Homo sapiens: one gene and its partner. The protein of the gene in region 2 interacts with the protein of the main gene of each other region in a biochemical or structural test. Each region holds a gene or a part of one and is shown on either strand. Other genes may lie near its edges.

The links. Proteins that work in one complex are often made in the same cells at the same time.
Region 1: the proteins of AMOT (region 2) and CDH11 form a complex in vitro, tested with the Homo sapiens proteins (one study listed by BioGRID).

The regions. Positions count from the first base shown.
Region 1 is NC_000016.10:64,993,064-65,000,101, reverse strand, and holds part of CDH11 (cadherin-11 isoform 1 preproprotein), read left to right. Parts: intron 1-1,245; coding exon 1,246-1,540; intron 1,541-7,038. UniProt on the Homo sapiens protein: Cadherins are calcium-dependent cell adhesion proteins. They preferentially interact with themselves in a homophilic manner in connecting cells; cadherins may thus contribute to the sorting of heterogeneous cell types.
Region 2 is NC_000023.11:112,774,799-112,781,836, reverse strand, and holds the end of AMOT (angiomotin), read left to right. Parts: intron 1-718; coding exon 719-951; intron 952-1,048; exon of another isoform or gene 1,049-1,119; intron 1,120-2,156; coding exon 2,157-2,840; intron 2,841-3,172; coding exon 3,173-3,270; 3' UTR 3,271-6,960; downstream 6,961-7,038.

The sequences.
Region 1 (7,038 bases), on a different chromosome or scaffold from region 2:
ACTTGGGGATGTTTAAGATTCTTTCTGACACCTAAGAAATTGTATACATATCAACCCATGCCACTAGTCCTACCTACCTTTAGCATTAGAATGGACACTTCTTCCAGGCAGGCCACATCCCCAGATCCTCATACCCTGTGTACCGCAAAGCAGGTCTTCTGGAAAGGTCTGATAAGTTGAATTGTTTGTAGTAACAAAAGCCAGGAAACAAGCTAAGTGTTCTTTAGAAAGGACTGCTAAAACGAACAACAAACAAACAAAAACATTGGCCAGGCATGGTGGCTCATGTGTGTAATCCCAGCACTTTGGGAGGCCAAGGCAGGCAGATCACTTGAGGTCAGGGGTTCGAGACCAGCCTGGGAAACATGGTAAAACCCTGTCTCTACTAAAAATACAAAAATGAGCTGGGTATGGTAGCATGTGCCTGTAATCCCAGCTACTTGGGAGGCTGATTTAGGAGAAATCGCTTGAACATGGGAGGCAGAGGCTGCAGTGAGCCGAGATCATGCCATTGCGCTCCAGCCTGGGCAACAGAGTGAGACTCCACCTCAAAAAAAAAGAAAAACCCAAAACAAAAAATTTTTTAAAAAATAATAACCTCCATACAGTAGATGAGGAAGATCTATAGTTATAAATGTGGAATAGTCACCTGAATTTATTGTTAGAGGAAAAGGATGAAGTGAAGAATGATGTGTGTACTCTGGAACTTTATTGTATAACAATAAACTAGGGTACATATGTATCTGTGTAGATTTCCTTGCATATGCATAGAATAGAATATCTCTTATAGGATTCACAAGAAACTGGTTACAGTGATTGTCTCTGAACAGAGGAGAAAATGAAGGAATGGGAGTCAGAGCTGAGAGGAAGACTTACTTATTGCATGAATGTTTGCTTATATATTTTTAAAAATAAACATACATTTATTTCAAACTATTGACAGATACGTTTAGGTTTTTATATTTTGCATATGCGCATATATATGGAGAGAGGTGAAAGGAGAGCATGAATCTTAGAATTAAAAATATATATATTTGAACTCTGGCTTCACTGTTCTGCAGTGTGACCTTGGCCAAGGCTATGATATTCTCTAAGATTGCCTTTCTCCTGTTGTAAAATGGAGATGAGAACATCTCCCTTTCATGACGTGTGTGTGTGCGCAGCAGATTGTTGCAATCACTTGTAAGTGAGTTTCCCCACTGCTTTCCTCATGGAATTAAAAATCTCAATTTCTCTTTCTTCCAGCTTCATTCAGATATTGACTCTGGTGATGGGAACATTAAATACATTCTCTCAGGGGAAGGAGCTGGAACCATTTTTGTGATTGATGACAAATCAGGGAACATTCATGCCACCAAGACGTTGGATCGAGAAGAGAGAGCCCAGTACACGTTGATGGCTCAGGCGGTGGACAGGGACACCAATCGGCCACTGGAGCCACCGTCGGAATTCATTGTCAAGGTCCAGGACATTAATGACAACCCTCCGGAGTTCCTGCACGAGACCTATCATGCCAACGTGCCTGAGAGGTCCAATGTGGGTGCGTACGGTGTGGGAGGCCTGCTCTGCTTCCAGGCCTGGTGTCTCTGTGGTGGGTGGGCTGAAGCCCGTTCTCCCAAATCAGGAAGTAGAGCTTCTTCTTTATCTTTTATGGCAAAATAACAAAAGGAACAAAAATTCTTTTGTTCCTCTGTAAAATGGGAATAACAATTTCTAGTCTTGTAGGAATAGAGATAATATACATCCAGTCGCTAGTGCGTATTGATGTCTAATAGGTAATGACACTGGTAATATCTGTTGCCTGTAGACATTGTGCTAATTAATGACTTACATGCACTATTTTATTTAGCTTTTGCAATGATTAATCTTTACAATGAGGTAATTCCAACTCACCGTATTTCACAGATAGGAAACCCATGCCAGAAACAAGCTAACTAATTTCTGTAGGGACATTTGAGCTATTAAATGGATCTAAAATGCACATTTAACCACAGCACTATGTCACTATGTTCAGAAGTACGTATATCTTTTCAACATGCTTGAAGACACATTAAGTTGCTAAAGGATAATTTTTTAAAGGATTTATTCAAAGAATTAGCCACCTTCTGGCAATAGCCTTCTTTATAACATGCACATAATGAAACATTTGCATAATGTTTCTTTTGAGAAACATTCCTCATATTAAGAAAGGTTTGTCTTTCAAACAGTGAGTAGAACTGTTCTAATCAGGGAGTGAGTCTGCTTAAAAGAGTTTTAGAGCTCAAATGAATTCAGGAACATTTTACAGATGAGAAAATCCAGCAAGTATAGGAATCAACCTACTTAAGAAAGATAGGTTTGACTCTAGAACGCTAAGATCCTTCCACTGTGCATACAGAGCTTTTTATGCCAGAAAATGGTATATTCCTTCTCCACCAGGAAAAGTCAAGTACTTATCAAAAGCCAGCCTGAACCATTTCCCACCTTTGTCTCTTCCATTTTCCCTGCCCAGTCCTTCAGCCTCTTGGTGTTTAGCCTGTGTATTATAATGAGAAACAACAAATATCAAATAAATCCATACAGAGGAAACAGCAGTGTCAGCAACTGAGTGTCAAGGGTGGGGATGGGGTGGAAAGGCAAATCATCAAAATATATAATCCAGGAAAATTTTCATTATTCTCACCTTTGCGGGCTCATTGATGTTTAGGGATAAAATTCAGGCTTTTTTTTTTTTTTTAGTTTCAACTTTTATTTTAGATTCAGGGGGTACATGTGCAGGTTTGTTTATTTATTTATTTATTTATTTATTTATTTATTTATTTTGAGACAGAGTCTCCCTCTGTTACTCAGGCTGGAGTGCCGTAATGCCATCTTGGCTCACTACAACCTCTGTCTCCCGGCTTCAAGCAATTCTCCTGCCTCAGCCTTCTGAGTAACTGGGATTACAGGAGCGCGCCACCACGCCCGGCTAATTTCTTTGTATTTTTATTACGGACGGGGTTTCACATGTTGTTCAGGCTGGTCTTGAACTCCTGACCTCAAGTGATCCACCCACCTCAGCCTCCCAAAGTGCTGAGATTACAGACGTGAGCCACCGTGCCCGGCCCATGTGCAGGTTTATTGAGTGAATATACATGAATATACTGTGTAACACTGAGGTTTGTGGTATGAATGACCCCATCACTCAGGTAGTGAACAGAGTAACCAACAGATTTCGGCACTTGTCCTCTGGCTCCACTCTAGTAATCCTGTGTTTATTATTCCCACTGGGTAAACATTGGGTTCATTTATACCTCCAGTTATAAATGAAAGCATGTGGTATTTGGTTTTCTGTTCCTGTGTCAATTTGCTCAGGATAATGGCCTCCAGCTGCATCCGTGTTGATGCAAAGGCATGATATTATTCATGCCACCATGCATAGTATTCCATGGTACATATACACCACATATTCTTTATCCAATCCACTGTTGATGGGCACCTTGGTTGACTCCATGTCTTCGCTATTGTGAATAGTGCTGCAATAAATATACAAGTGCAGGCGTTTTTCTTGTAGAACGATTTATTTTCCTTTGGGTCTATAAAGAGTAATGGGATTGCTGGGTTGAATTGTAATACTTTTTTTTTTTTTTTTCTGAGACAGAGTCTCGCTCTGTTGCCCAGGCTGCAGTGCAGTGGCACGATCTCGGCTCACTGCAATCTCTGCCTCCTGGGTTCAAACGATTCTCCTGCCTCAGCCTCCTGAGTAGCTGGGATTACAGGCGCCTGCCACCACACTGGCTAATTTTTTTGTATTTTTAGTACACAGGGGTTTTGCCATGTTGGCCAGGCTGATCTGGAACTCCAGACCTCAGGTGATCTGCTCACCTCGTCCTCCCAAAGTGCTAGGATTACAGGCATAAGCCACCGTGCCCAGCCTTGAATTGTAATTCTGTTTTTTTTGAGACTTCTCCAAATTGCTTTTCAGAGTGACCTAATGTACATTCCAACCAGCAGTGTATATGTGTTCCCTTTTCTCCACATCCTCACCAGCATGTTATTTTTTGACTTTTTAATCATAGCTATTCTAACTAGTGGGAGATGGTTTCTCATTATGGGTTTCATTTACATTTCTCTGATGTTTAATGACGACCAATTTTTTTATATTTGTAAGCCATTTGCATATCTTCTTTTGCTAAGTGTCCATCCATGTCTTTTGCCCACTTTTGCCCACATTGTTTTTTTACTTGTTGAATTGTTTAAATTCCTTATAGATTCTGGATACTAGACCTTTGTTGGGTGTGTAGTTTGTGAATATTTTCTCCCATTCTGTAGGTTGTCTCTTTACTCTGTTTATAGTTTCCCTTTGTTGTGCAGAAGCTCTTTAGTGTAATTAGGTCCTGCTTGTCAATTTTTATTTTTGTTGCAATTTCTTTTGAGGACCTAGTCATAAATTCTCTCCCAAGGCCAATGTCCAGAATGGTGTTTCCTGGGTTTTTTTCTCTAGGGCATTTATAGTTTGAGGTCTTACATTTAAATCTTTAATTCATCCTGAGTTAATTTTTGTATATGGGGAAAGGTAGGGGTCCAGTTTCACTCTTCTGCATGAGGCTAGCCAGCTATCCCAGCATTATTTATTGATTAAGGAGTACTTTCCTCATTGCTTAATTTTGTCAACTTTGTTGATGATCAGATGGCTGTAGGTGTGTGGCTTTATTTCTGGGTTCTCTATTCTGTTCCACTGGTCTATGTGTCTGTTTTTGCACCAGCAACATGCTATTTTGGTTACTGTAGCCTTGTAGTATAGCTTGAAGTTGGGTAAGGTGACTCCTCCAACTTTTTTCTTTTTGCTTAGGATTGCTTTGACTATTCGGGCTCTTTTTTGGTTCCATATGAGTCTTAGAACAGTTTTTTTTTCTAATTCTGTGAAAAAATGATGTTGCTAGTTTGATAGAAATAGCATTGAATCAGTAGATTGCTTTGGGCAGTGTAGCCATTTTAATGATATCAAATGGGAAAACATTCTATGCTCATGGGTTGAAAGAATCAATATCATTGAAAGGATCAATATTCCATTTGTTTGTGTCATCTATGATTTCTTTCAGCAGTGTTTCGAAATTCTCCTTGTACAGATCATTTACCTCCTTGGTTAGATGTATTCCTAGGATTTTATTGTTTTGTGGCCCTTGTGAATCGCACTGTATTCTTGATTTGGTCCTCAGCTTGAGTGTTATTGATGTATAGAAATGCCGTTGACTTTTGTACCTTGATTTTGTATTCTGAAGCTTCACTGAAGTTGTTGATCAGTTCTAAGAGCCTTTTGGCAGAGTCTTTAGAGTTTTCTAGGTATAGAATCATATCATTAGTGAAGAGAAATAATTTGACTTCTTCTTTTCCTATTTCGATGTCTTTTATTTCTTGCTCTTGCCTCATTGCTCTGATTAGGACTTCCAGTACTATGTTGAATAGGACTGGTGAGAGTGGGCATCCTTGTCTTATTCCTGCTCTGAAGGAGAATGCTTCCAGCTTTTGCTCATTCAGTGTGATGCTGGATGTGGCTTTGTCATGGATTGCTCTTATTATTTTGAGAACTCAGACATTGTATTATGGCATATGACAGTACAGTCGTTGTTGTCAGACAGTACTATGAATCATGGCTGTACTCCTAATCAGCCTTACGAACCCAGGCAACCTATTATACCTTTCTAAGTTTTTATTTTGCCATCTATAAAATGAGGATAATATAAACTATGTTGAAGGTTAAATGAAATAGATGTGAAATACAAAACCATTGTAAAGGATGTAGCAGAGTTCTAGAAGGAAATTAAGCATTTAAAATTAATAATTTCCCTAGCCACACCATGATGGTATTTTCCTTTATAAATCTATCCTGCCTAGAATAGTGACTGACAAATGGGAAGAGCTCCAAAGAGATTGTTTCTATGAAATAATGAATTATAGAAGAGTAACTAGAAAAAAGTGAGATGTACACCACACAAAAATCACTGACAATCCTATAAATTAAAGGTAGTGATAGGCTGTGTAAACTGGCTCCCTTGCCTCCCACATAGAACCTTGCCCCTCTGCTGAAAATGTTACAGAAATAACTTGAGTTTTGTTGTGTGCTGGATTGGGGTTAGACTTTGGCAATTACCAACTTTGTGAAATAGATTACAAAGCTTCATATATCTCAAGTTCAATTTCTCACTAATACAGTAGATGTAAAAAATGCCCAGCAGAGGAATGCTGGCAAAATACATGGAATGTGCCCCCAGATCATGCTGGCACAGAGAAATTCGATAATTACTGGTTTTCTTCTTCCAGCTCCTCTCTCCCCACTCTGAAGCCCAACATGCCATGCCCCAGATACTTGCTATTTGTGACCAGCCAGGAACAAAGGTTGTTTTTAGGAAAAGCAGAACCCCATCTTTCTTCAATTTCCTGGTTTCCCTTCGTTCTGACCCATGAATGCTTCCCTTACCTCTCACCAGATGTTTACTGGTGATTTCTGTTATATGGCTACCAGACCAGCTACAGGTGGGAAGATGCAATTTTCATGCCAGTAGGGAACAGCATTCTGCTCAGTATTTATGGCCATAAATTAATTAAATTGTAGAATTAGCAGCAATTTTATTACATGCAAAGCAACAATAAAATGATGTATTTATTGTTCTGCTACAGATGGAAGATTGCACTCTGTCCTTTCCTGAAAGCAATTTATCGTTAATTATCATTTATTATACTCTGGGAAGATTTTAATGTAATTATTTGATATACTGAACATTTCAAGTGCATGAGTTGTAAGATATTTTTGCAATAATATTTATAATATTATTTTAATCACCAACCAATGTAGGATGTACTATAAATACAGAAAGTTCATTTTTAAACTGTGGCCATTTTTATAGAGCAGGAAGGAAGGAAGGAAGGAAGGAAGGAAGGAAGGAAGGTTGGTTGGCTGGTTATTTTGCATCTCAACTCCAGGAAAATGAGAGAATGTTGAATAATTGTGGTGCCTTCTTCAGGGTTAATTTTAGAATAAAACTTTGTAAACAAGAACATAATTTGAAAATCTGAGGAGAT
Region 2 (7,038 bases):
ATCATTTACTTACTACCTGCAGGTTGTCGCTCATTCATAGATCTCATCTTCTCACTGAGTAAATTGTTTCCATTGACTGAGATTCTTCACTACAGCACCTAGTACATCAGTTCATTCTCTCATATTCAGCCTTTTTTTTCACTGGTACTTTATTGTGACTTACTAAGATTTAAGCAACAGCTCCTGGATGCTCTGCTGTATCCATTTGGGTGTGCAGAAAAAAGAAAAAACATGTTTTAAAAACTGTAGCACACCATCCCTTGTTTTCCAACTCAGAACTAACTAGATCAGCCTTTAGTCGAAAAGATAATGGGAGCTCCACGTAGTCATGTAGTCAATTAGACCAAAATGTGGAGGTAGCAAGAAGGTTTTTTTTTTTTTTTTTTTTTTTTTGAGATGGAGTCAGTCTTGCTCTGTCACCCAGGCTGGAGTGCAGTGGCACTATCTTGGCTCACTGCAACCTCCGCCTCCCAAGTTAAAGTGATTCTCCTGCCTCGGCCTCCCGAGTAGCTGGGACTATAGGCGCCTGCCACCACACCCAGCTAATTTTTGTGTTTTTAGTAGAGACAGGGTTTCACCATGTTGGCCAGGCTGGTCTCGAACTCCTGACTTTGCAATCCGCCCACCTCGGCCTCCCAAAATGCTGGGATTACAGGCGTAAGCCACCGCGCCCAGCCCACAACAAGGTCTTTATATGTTCTTTGCCTTTGGCTCCTAGGATTAAGACCCTCCATGCCCAGATTATTGAGAAGGATGCCATGATCAAAGTACTCCAGCAGCGTTCCCGGAAGGAGCCGAGCAAGACAGAGCAGCTGTCGTGCATGCGGCCAGCGAAGTCTCTGATGTCCATTTCCAATGCTGGATCAGGCTTGCTCTCCCACTCATCCACCCTGACTGGCTCCCCCATCATGGAAGAAAAGCGAGACGACAAGAGCTGGAAGGGGAGCCTAGGTAATGACAGTAAATAAGGAAGATTATAGTCACGTGTTCAAAGAGAGCCCTGAGATAAGCACCCATGCTTAAGGAAAAGGGATGATGGTCCAGGTTCTAGAGAGGAAGGTGTACCAGGGTTTTGGAGTTTTTTTTTCCTCCTGAGACCCTAGTTCCACATTCTGGAGCTCCTCCACACTTTGAAGTCTCCCGGTGAGAATACCGATTGAGGCCAAGGCTTAGAGGACAAGAATCTTGAGTTTCATTTGGGTGTCAAGGAAGATAACTCTAATTTCCTCTAAACTATTCTCAGATTTGGCCTTTGCCATGTGGCACCTTTATCTTTCTCCAAAGCCCATGTGGCCTTTGTGTCGTTCCAAATGTCAAAATTCCGGCATTTCTGTGTTCCTTCCTCCTCTATAATAGGAGAACCCAGAGTTTTAGTTACACTAAATCGTTTGGGTAGCAGGTTTTGTTCCCACAGTGTTGTGAGATGAGAACAGAATGTACTTTTTCATTCCGTTCCTGTCCATTCCCTCCCCTCTAATCAAAACCCCAGACATATTGTGGATACCACGAGGCACATTTTTAGAGCCCGAGGAAGGAAGCTTATATATATTTTTATTTTAACCCTTTTTGTTGCTGTTAATTCCTTTCTTGGTCCTCTGATACTTGTAATATCTTTTGGTTAGAATAAGCATTTTGGGGACTATGGTCATGGTGAGAACCTCAGATCACACAATTATTACCACACTCAATCTGTGTCAACAGACTTCTTCCCCAGATCCTTTCTTGCTCCCTGGTAACGTGTGGTAATGGTTTATAAGTGGAGCCGAGTAGGAGCATTCTGACAACTTGGTGGAACCCAATCACCATTGGAAAAATAAATCAAAACAGATACCCAGGTCACTTACAGGCTTAATATGTTGTGCCAGGTGATGGATGAGGACCAGAAGGGATCCTCGAAGTCTGTAGGAAACTTTTAGCCATGGTTGGAGGAGCCTCACACACTGATTTCTGGGTTCCCTGGAGGCAAAAATAAATAACTTAGACTATTCTAAATTATTTAATATTTAAAAATAATAATATTTTAAATATTTAAATAATATTTACTTATTTAAAAATAAATAAATTTCTTCTGAAATTTGAATGGGAGAACAGGTAATTAGATGTCTGGATTTGAATCACCTATTGTTTTCTAACATCTGTTCCTCTTTCATTTGTAGGCATTCTCCTGGGTGGAGACTACCGTGCTGAATATGTCCCTTCCACACCCTCGCCTGTGCCACCCTCGACTCCCCTGCTCTCGGCTCACTCCAAGACAGGCAGCCGAGACTGCAGTACCCAAACTGAACGTGGGACGGAATCGAACAAAACTGCAGCTGTTGCTCCCATCTCTGTTCCTGCTCCAGTTGCTGCTGCCGCCACTGCTGCCGCCATCACTGCCACTGCTGCCACCATCACCACCACCATGGTAGCTGCTGCTCCAGTTGCTGTTGCTGCTGCTGCTGCTCCAGCTGCTGCTGCTGCCCCGTCTCCAGCCACTGCCGCTGCTACTGCTGCTGCTGTTTCTCCAGCTGCTGCTGGTCAGATTCCAGCTGCTGCCTCTGTTGCCTCAGCTGCTGCCGTTGCTCCTTCTGCTGCTGCTGCTGCTGCTGTTCAGGTTGCTCCAGCTGCTCCGGCTCCAGTTCCAGCTCCGGCTCTGGTTCCGGTTCCAGCTCCAGCAGCGGCTCAGGCTTCTGCTCCTGCTCAGACTCAGGCACCAACTTCAGCTCCGGCTGTGGCTCCAACTCCAGCTCCAACTCCAACTCCAGCTGTGGCTCAGGCTGAGGTTCCTGCAAGTCCAGCTACCGGTCCTGGACCACATCGTTTGTCTATACCAAGTTTGACCTGCAATCCAGACAAAACAGGTAATTATTCCCTTTAGCAGGTAGGTTTTGGTTTAGTTCTGCTCTCAAATACAGATTTATTTCTTGTTGTCTGATGTCTGGGCAGAGTTATCATTTGGACTGAGTTTTTCACGTTCTAAAGGAGAGAGAAGAGAGTCTGTAAATGACTTCTCATCCACCAAGATGGGAACAGGCATGAGTAGAGGCCATTATCTTAGCAGAAGTAAATGAGGGAGGTGGCAGGCAAGTCTCACTTTGCCATTGGCTTCATGAGGGCTCTGATGGTGTCTGGTTCTAGAAATATGGGTTTTTTCTTCATCCCTAAGTGTTTTCTAACCCTTATTTCCATTTAGATGGGCCTGTGTTCCACTCCAATACTCTGGAAAGAAAAACTCCCATTCAGATCCTGGGACAAGAGCCTGATGCAGAGATGGTGGAATATCTCATCTAAACGGCCAAATCAAGAGCTGCAGATTATCAGCAAAAATGCTTTTAATCATTTTCCCCCTTTTATTGGTTCTTGTTTTGAGGGTGAGGACAAGGGTTGTGGGGAGGGGATGTTTTTTAACAGGACTTTTTATTGGAACAATGTACTACTTGAGTAATACCATGTGAACACCAGTCTATTTTGGTATGCTTAGGGAGTACCTCTAAAGACAGATTAATCAGAATGTGCTCTAAAGCTTATTGTTTGAATTTATACGAATACTGGGACTGTTAACAGGTGGCTATACATCGACGTTTTCAATGTGCTTAAATTTGTTTAAATTTTCCATATTCTAGATCATTTTTTATTGAAGAGCACAGTATGTGTGGAAGACAGTGTATAACACGTAGTTTGGAAGTGGGAAGCTAGAGAGAATTGAGTGTGTGCTGTTTTGTATAGTTACTATCCTGTGCAGCAGCTGGAGAAAGCACTCACCTCAGGCTTACAAAAGGGAATAGTTTCAGGAGCTATGTAAGCTGGAAAAAAGGTAGGGAGTTTTGGGGTGCAGAAGGGTACTGGAGCTAATTTTTTCTTCCAGTTTCCCAGCTACCCTGCCCCAGGGAATTGTGTTTGTCTTCATTTCAGTGGTGCTTTGGAAATGGATTCTTTTGGTTCCCTCCTGGAGGTTCATACATTCATATATATGCTCTGGAGTAATTTATGCATTTGGATAATTAATATATTGCTTTCAGATGCTGGGAGAGTACATTAACTGAGTGATGCGCAACTTCCTCTCTCTTAGGGAATTAGACCATCAGAGGCCTTGATGGAGAGTTGCATGGGGTGCTATATGCAGACTTCCATGGTTTGTGTGTAGCCATGAACACAGCTTGCTTGCATTTAGTAAGACCAATCAGCTTAGTGTTTATTTCTTCTACAGCACAGATTCACTGGCTGGGTCTCCAGTCTCAAATTGCCAATCATTTGCAAAGTGAGGAAGGATCTTTGTTGACAGGTTGAATGCTTTGAATTTCTGGTGACTACTTTGAAATAACTTGTTTTGTTTGTCAAATTCTAAGCATATGTCTTAAAAGGCATTTTTGACTATCACCTCCAAGGGAATAGCTTGAGAAACCCAAAGTACTATGCTGCAGTCGGGGGAGAGGTGGATTGCAGCAGTATCCTCAACTACCTCTTCTCACTGTCAGTGACACCATCTTGGAATACCTTTGGGAAGCAGCAGGAAATGTGCATGTGGGTAGAGATCAAAGGAGGCAATGGCTCCAAGCCTTGCCATAGGGCTGCCTCCAAGGACACAGAAGGATGCCAGTTGCCACAGGTCCCTGCCCTGTGTCACCTGTCTGCCCTTCATTAAGGTGAGAAATCTGCAGATAGCATCATTAAGATCAGTTTTAAGGGGTATAGGGAGGGTGAGGGAAGTGGGGGGTGTTAGGTAAGGGTTGGGGGTAGAGGTTTTGGGATGTCTTAGTTAGAAACCAGATTAATAGAAGAGTAGGCCTGATATATTACATCATGAGCCATAGTGGTGGGAAAGAACTTTAGCAATATAGCCCTACCTCCTCATTTTAGTGATGAGGAATCTGAGAACTGGAGAGGTTCAGTGACTTTTTGAAAGTCATACAACACAGCTAACCATTATGCCAATCACCATGCTTATTTTGGGAAACTCTTTATCTTTTTTAAATTCCATTTTATGAAAAGGCATCTTCATGGTCCAGGGAATATGTATCTTGTAAAATGTACCTGGTTGGAGTAGCTTGTCCAGTCTTGACAAACTACTGAATTTCTGTCTTGCCTCTCCTTCAGTGCCTTTTAAAAGGTTTTCCCTTTTCTGATCTGCATTTCAACATAGAGTCACATAAATGTCCCCCTGAGAAACCAATCCCACTTCTTTCTAGGAGATTGGGTATCTTAGATAATCTTTTGGGGTTCCTCTGTGAGTATAGGAATGGTATCCTTCCTAATTATCTTCCAAAGGAATTATTTTGTGTGTGTGCCTGTGTGTGTGTAGAGACATAAAGGAGGGTGATGTGATTTTCAGCTAGTCCTTTCACATTTTCAATAATGAGGTAATCATGTTACATACACATTAGTCCTCAGTTATAAAGTGAATCTCAGATAGAAATTAAAAGTGCAGTTGTGTTAAGACTCTTTCATACTACCCTTTAGTCATAAGGAGAAAAAAACACTCAAATAGTAGAAGCAGCAAGTAGCAAACTTCAGGAGAGCTACTTTCTATCCAAATAATTTAAAAAACACTTTTCACCTACTCCTTTCATGGTTATAACACATTGGCAGACTTTTTGCTGGCTCTGGGAGCCATGATTTTAATCACATTCTGCAAGGTGACAAATGTCATACATTCCACATTGTGTGGTAGCCATCTCTTTAGACTCATGTGTTTTGGGGAAAGGAAGAAGTTCTTGGCTGAGTACTATTTTGAACTTTCCAGAACCCTCTCACACCAGAGACAGTTCTTCTCTGTTCAGTTTCCAATCCCCGATAATTTGCTAAAATAACATTGTACATCCAAGAGAGGGAAGAAGAGTATGTCAGTATATTATGCAGAAGATAGATACAGCCTTTTCAGAAGATCTCCACTAGTTTTTGTTCCAAAAATTCAAGTTTATGGGAGAAATCTCAATTAGCCACCTTTTCACAGTTGTGTGGATATAACATTTGGGGGATCTTTCTGGACTCCTACCTATCTGTGCATTTTACCGGCACCTCAGGAAAGGAGGGTGACCAGGTTGTCTTAGCTTGTACTGCTTGGTGATCTCTGAGGACCTTCTAATTCAGTTGTACCCCAGTGTTCCATGTATAGAAAAACTTCATTAGAACAAACTTTACTTGATATGAAACTCCTATTAACAGTCTTTTTTTGAAATAAAAAGTAGCTTGAGCTTTCTTTTAAAATCATGTATCTTGATTGTTGATTTAATGAAGGATTTCCTTTTAATGCTGCTTTTGAGCTTCAAGGTAATAGGACAGCAGGAACCTAAAATATCTGCCATCATCTGCCATAGGAAAGATACCCAGAGACCCATCATGTTCTCTTTTTGTTGTTACACTGTTGGGTGGGTATAACAATTGGAAAATGAACAAACTGATTGATTGTGCAAACTACTTTTTATGACAAGCCTAAACCCTCATAATGCGGCAGCTTAAAGTGTATACATATGCACTAACTTTGATCAATTATATTCTCATATCTGTTAGCTACACAGTCTCCTATTATCTCAATTGCTTATGTGCATATGGAATATGTTACTTAAAACGTGTGCATTCTTACTGAAAATGTTTTCAAAGGAAGGTATCAGCTGTGGGCTAATTGCCACCAATTTCAGCCTGCCACGATTCTTGGAAATATGTCTTCCAAGTGCCATCCATCATCAGTAGGACAAGTGTCGGGAGTTTGTTTATTTTTTTCCAGTAGCAACGATGGGTTACATGGAGCCATGAAACCTCCTTCTGGCCTCCCTTGTGATTAATGGCATGTGTTTGTAAAATGGATAGCTGGGGTTGGCAGATGGCTAGAGAAGAATCGCCTTTGGTTTAAAATGTATGTGGTCCCCTAATGATTGTGACCCCATTCTGTAATCAACTGAGCTAGTTCCAATAAAGTTAAGCAGGTTTAAATCCACTTTGTGCCTATCTTTTCACTGACAATAAAGTTAGCTATTTTAAAATGCAGTACCGTGTGGAAAATGCTTTGGTGTTTACCCGACAGAGGCTTTATTTGTGCTGTATCAGTGATTACTTTCAATTCAG